Linked DNA regions of Homo sapiens: region 1 is linked to region 2. Evidence: fine-mapped expression QTL. A gene starts in region 2. The other region holds a variant in brackets. All regions are shown on one strand. Distances are between the middles of the regions. Region 1 overlaps GLIS2 (GLIS family zinc finger 2). Region 2 holds the start of LINC01569 (long intergenic non-protein coding RNA 1569).

What was found.
Region 1: its variant is fine-mapped to the expression of LINC01569 in monocytes after R848 (Quach 2016, PIP 0.95).

What each region holds. Positions count from the first base shown.
Region 1 is chr16:4,334,725-4,337,595 of GRCh38, forward strand. GLIS2 (GLIS family zinc finger 2) reads left to right here. Exons shown (of 7, transcript NM_032575.3): 4 at 77-253; 5 at 336-469; 6 at 551-669; 7 at 2,001-2,871. The coding sequence ends at 2,800. Among named protein-coding and RNA genes, the nearest start is that of GLIS2-AS1, 7.8 kb to the left of the region's middle. The variant G/A (reference allele first, on the strand shown) is at 1,799.
Region 2 is chr16:4,252,436-4,255,281 of GRCh38, forward strand. LINC01569 (long intergenic non-protein coding RNA 1569) reads right to left here and starts at 1,354. Exons shown (of 3, transcript NR_039999.1): 1 at 1,212-1,354. RefSeq lists enhancers at 236-858, 923-1,132 and a silencer at 1,363-1,622.

The DNA of each region.
Region 1 (2,871 bases), 82 kb after region 2:
CCATTCAGTCCACTACCGATGGGACGGGGGGCTCTGGGCCAGCAGGACCTTGACTAGCCCTCCCCTCGCACCCCAGGACTTCCAGCCACTGCGCTATTTGGATGGTGTCCCCAGCTCCTTCCAGTTCTTCCTGCCCCTCGGCTCCGGGGGGGCCCTGCACCTGCCTGCCTCCTCCTTCCTTACCCCTCCCAAGGACAAGTGCCTCTCGCCAGACCTGCCCCTGCCCAAGCAGCTGGTGTGTCGCTGGGCCAAGGTGAGTGGGGGCCAGCAAGAGTAGTGTGGAGTCTGGGGCAGGTCACCCCGCATGGGCTCAGAACACTTCCCATCCTCCGCAGTGTAACCAGCTCTTTGAGCTCCTGCAAGACCTGGTGGACCATGTCAACGATTACCATGTCAAGCCCGAGAAGGATGCGGGGTACTGCTGCCACTGGGAGGGCTGCGCCCGCCATGGCCGAGGTTTCAACGCCAGGTGAGGTGGGGGAGAGAGGGGTAGAGGGAGGACTGGGGTCTCCAGTGAGCTGAGCCGTGCCCCCCGCCCTCCCTGGAGCAGGTACAAGATGCTCATCCACATCCGCACACACACCAACGAGAAGCCACACCGCTGTCCGACCTGCAGCAAGAGCTTCTCCCGCCTGGAGAACCTGAAGATCCACAACCGGTCGCACACAGGTAAGAGGCCGGGGCCGGGCGGCTTGGCCCATGAAGGGGGCGCTCAGCTGAGACCGGCTGGGCAGGTCCCCAGGGGGAGGGGACTGTTAAGTAAATCCCGGGCCTCAGAGATAAGGGTTGATGTCATCGCCCAGGGGTCCCTTTTCCAATGCAGTTTGCTAGGGGAAGCATCCCCTGGGGGTCAGACCCCCACCCAGCACCTGCTCTTGGAGCACCAATGCCATTTCCTGGTTCCCGTGGGTATCTTCTGACTAATGCCACCTCTGTGATCGCAGAGGCCAGGTCGGCTTCACTCCTCACTACAGCCCAGGCCCATACCAGGACAGCTCTGGTTGTCAGAGCCACAGACATAATTTTACATTTCCTAATCGCTGCATAAAACACAGCAAAAATAAATGGGTGAAATTAATTGTAATATGGTTCGTTGACCCCGGTACATCCAACGTGTTATCAATTCATTATTAAAGACAAATCAGTGAGATATTGAAGTTCTTCATTTCATGACAAAGCCTCAAGGAGCTGATGTGTATGTTTTTTCCTGGTGTTTATTTCACCCTGGCAGCACATCTCCAGGTGGAGAGCCATGTATCAGGAGGTCAGTCACTACATGTGGCCCCCTGCTCTGGCCAGGGCAGCAGAAGATGCCTGGTGAACCTTCAGCCATTTGTTGAGTGAGGGCAGTAGCGCCCAGGCAGCACTCCCTGTGGCCAGGCCCACGCTGGGCGCCTCGTGCCAGGATGTGATCTCCAAGGCCATGGTGTCTTTTTTTTCTTGAGACAGACTCACTCTGTCACCCAGGCTGGAGTGCAGTGGCATGATCTTGGCCCACTGCAACCTCTGCCTCCCAGGTTCAAGTGATTCTCCTGCCTCAGCCTCTGAGGTAGCTGGGATTACAGGCACCTGCCACCACACCCAGCTAGTTTTCGTAGTTTTAGTAGAGACGGGGTCTCACCATGTTGGCCCTGCTGGTCTGGAACTCCTGGCCTCAAGTGATCTGCCTGCCTTGGCCTCCCAAAGTGCTGAAATTACAGGCGTGAGCCACCGGGCCCGGCCTCCAAGGCCATGTTCTGCTGCTGAAAGGCACATCCTCTGTAGCAGAGGGTGCAGGGCGAGGCTAGGCAGAGCTGGA[G/A]TCAACCAGGCTGAGTTTTCAGCCTCTGTGCCCTGCCTGGGGGCAGATCTCATGCCATGTGCTGGGGATGCCCCCTGCCCCCAGAATTGGGGCATCTATGTTCCCAGGGAGTGCTTGGCCCGGGGAAATGTTGAGTGCATGGGGTGAGACCCAGGAAGGGGAGAGACCCCTCATGGCGGCACTGCACTGCACCACCCTGCAGGTGAGAAGCCCTACGTCTGCCCCTACGAGGGCTGCAACAAGCGCTATTCCAACTCCAGTGACCGCTTTAAGCACACGCGCACCCACTATGTGGACAAGCCCTACTACTGCAAGATGCCCGGCTGCCACAAGCGCTACACGGACCCCAGCTCACTGCGCAAGCACATCAAGGCCCATGGCCACTTTGTGTCCCACGAGCAGCAAGAGCTCCTGCAGCTGCGCCCACCCCCCAAGCCGCCACTGCCCGCCCCCGACGGCGGCCCCTATGTCAGTGGGGCCCAGATCATCATCCCCAACCCAGCTGCCCTCTTTGGAGGCCCTGGCCTGCCCGGCTTACCCCTACCCCTGGCCCCCGGCCCCCTTGACCTCAGTGCCCTGGCCTGTGGCAACGGTGGGGGCAGTGGGGGTGGGGGGGGCATGGGCCCTGGGCTGCCAGGCCCCGTCCTGCCTCTCAATCTGGCCAAGAACCCGCTGCTGCCCTCGCCCTTTGGGGCTGGCGGACTGGGCTTGCCTGTGGTCTCCCTCCTTGCTGGCGCAGCTGGTGGCAAGGCCGAGGGGGAGAAGGGGCGTGGGTCGGTGCCCACCAGGGCCCTGGGCATGGAGGGCCACAAGACGCCCCTTGAAAGGACGGAGAGCAGCTGCTCCCGGCCAAGCCCCGATGGACTCCCCCTGCTGCCAGGCACCGTGCTGGACCTGTCCACGGGCGTCAACTCAGCTGCCAGCAGCCCAGAGGCGTTGGCCCCTGGCTGGGTGGTCATCCCGCCGGGCTCGGTGCTGCTCAAACCGGCTGTGGTGAACTGAGCCCATCCTGCGGACAGTTGTGGTGCCCCCCCGGCAGCTCCCGGCACTGCCCCCGACGAACGGAAACTCTT
Region 2 (2,846 bases):
GTCAGAAGTTTAAGACCAGCCTGGCCAACATGGTGAAACCCGTCTCTACTAAAAATACAAAAAAATTAGCTGGGCGTGGTGGCGCACACCTGTAATCCCAAATAACTCGGGAGGCTGAGAAAGAAGAATCACTTGAACCCGGGAGGCGGAGGTCCACTGCGCTCCAGCATGGGTGACAGACCGAGGCTCTGTCTCAAAAACAAATAGAGATGAGGTCTTGCTATGTTGTCCAGGCTAGTCTAGAAATCCAGGGCTAAAGCCATCTTCCCCCTTCAGCCTCTCTAGTAGCTGAGACTACAGGTTAGAACCACCAACCCAGACTTCTCCCTGTACATTTCAATAATTATTTCAAAACTTAAAAATCTGAAAGAAAGCAAACTGCTTGATAGTGGCAGAAAGCAAGCATGAGGGGATTCTGGGGCTTGCTGGGGGTGTTGGCTACCTGGGTGTATGTTCAGTTTGTGAAAATTCACGGAGCGCCTAAGCTATGCACCCTCTTCTGAATGTGTTACCCAGTACTCCAATAAAAGGCTTTTGGCCCTGGAGAGGTGGCTCACGCCTGTAATCCCAGCACTTTGGGAGGCCAAGGCGGGCGGAGCACCTGAGGTCGGGAGTTCGAGACCAGCCTGACCAACATGGAGAAACCCCGTCTCTACTATAAGTACAAAATTAGCCGGGCGTGGTGGCGCATGCCTGCAACCCCAGCTACTCAGGAGGCTGAGGCGGAAAATCGCTTGAACCCGGGAGGCGGGGGTTGCGGTGAGCCCAGATCGCGCCACTGCACTCCAGCCTGGTCAACATGAGCTAAATTACGTCTCAAAAAAAAAATAAATAAATAAAACAGCCGAGCTGGAGGTGTGTGCCTGTAATCCCAGCTACTCAGGAGGCTGAGGCGGGAGGCTCGCTTGAGCCCGGAAGGTGGAGGCTGCAGTGAGCCGAGATCGCGTCACTGCACTCCAGCCTGGGCGACACAGCACGACTCTTTTAAAAACAGGTTTTGTTGAGTGCCGCATTGATCCGGTCCCTCCCACGCCCCCTGTGCTTCACAAAAACGTCAGGTCCGAGCTCCGGCGCGGCGGTCTCCTCCTCCGCGGGTCCGGGCCGGAACTCGGCAGAAGGACGAGCAGCTCCTTGGGGCCGGCAGTCTCCCATCGCACTGAGATTGACACGGCAATGTTTCGGATACTCTGGGTAAAAATTAAATGTCTTACGAAAAGTCCTGTCACCCGTTTCTTGATTACTTTTTACGGCGGCTTCCAGAACCTTTCGTCAGCGCGAGCTCCATGCCCGGAGGCCGCCGTCACCTGCTCTCCGGGAAGGCCCTGGGCAGGCAGGCAGCGCGCTGAAGGAGTCCGGGAGCAGATCGTGCGAGAGAGCGCGCGGGCGCCAGGCGCGGGGGCGGGGCCAGACGTGCGTGCTGGCGGGAGCGCGCGCGCCATGGCCTGAGGCGTCTGGGAACATGCGCGGCGAGGGGACGGGCGGGGCGAGTCCGGGAAGGGGCGGGGCCGCAGCCGCGCCCCTGACTTCCACCGCCTGCGGGTGAGACCGCCTACCATCGCCCGGCGCGCTTGAGCATGCAAGGGGAGGTGGGATTCCCCTGGCCCGCCCCCAAGCCACGCCTCTGGCCTATGAGAACTGAGCTGTCCCGCAGGGACCGAGAGAGGAGCCTCCGCTTTCGCAGGGGCTGGGCGTTCCGGGCGCACTGCGCCCTCTGTTGATCCTCTTAGGAGCTGCGTGGGGACCGTCGGGCCTGCCGTTTCGCACCTGGCCGAAAGGGGTCGCTGTGCCGGGCCAGATCCTATGTAAATTTAGCTGGATAATCTCAGCAAGAGAAAATTGGCTGCAGTGCAAAGAAGCCAGGCTCAAAAGGCAGGGTTATCCCATTTCTATGACATGTCACAGGTAAGACTATGGCAACATAGATCAGTGGCTCCTAGGGGCTGGGTTGACCACCAAGAGGCATGGGGGGCATTGGAAATGAAGGAACTAATTCATATCTTTTTTATTTTGCTTTGGTTTTATTTATTATTTATCTATTTATTTATTTTTGAGACAGTTTCGCTCTTGTTGCCCAGGCTGGAGTGCAATGGCGCGATCTCGGCCCACCGCAACCTCCGCCGCCTGGGTTCAAGCGATTCTCGTGTCTTAGCCTCCCGAGTAGCTGGGATTACAGGCATGCGCCACCACGCCCGGTTAATTTTGTATTTTTAGTAGAGACAAGGTTTCTCCATGTTGGTCAGGCTGCTGTCGAACTCCCGACTTCAGGTGATCCGCCCACCTTGGCCTCCCAAAGTGCTGGAATTACAGGCGTGAGCCACCGTACCCGGCCTGTTTTATTTTTTCTTTAAATCATATCTTGATCATAGTGGTGGGTAGGAAACTATGCATTTGCGTGTAGGAAACACGCAAAACCAAAAATCAGAAAGTGTGACTTCTACTAAATGTAACTACTTTCATTTTTAAAAATTATTTATTTATTTATTTATTTTTTAAGATGGAGTGTCGCCCTGTCACCCAGGCTGGAGTGCAGTGGCACAATCTCAGCTCACTGCAACCTCCACCTCCCCGGTGCAAGTGATTCTCCTGCCTCAGCCTCACCAGTAGCTGGGACCACAGTTACTGGCATTCGCCACCATGCCAGGCTAATTTTTGTATTTTTAGTAGAGACGGGGTTCCACCATGTTGGCCAGGCTGGTCTCAAACTCCTGACCTCAAGTGATCCGCCCACCTCGGCCTCTCAAACTGCTGGGATTACAGGCGTGAACCACTACTGTGCCCAGCCTAATTTTTGTATTTTAGTAGAGTTGGGGTTTCACCATGTTGGCCAGGCTGGTCTTGAACTCCTG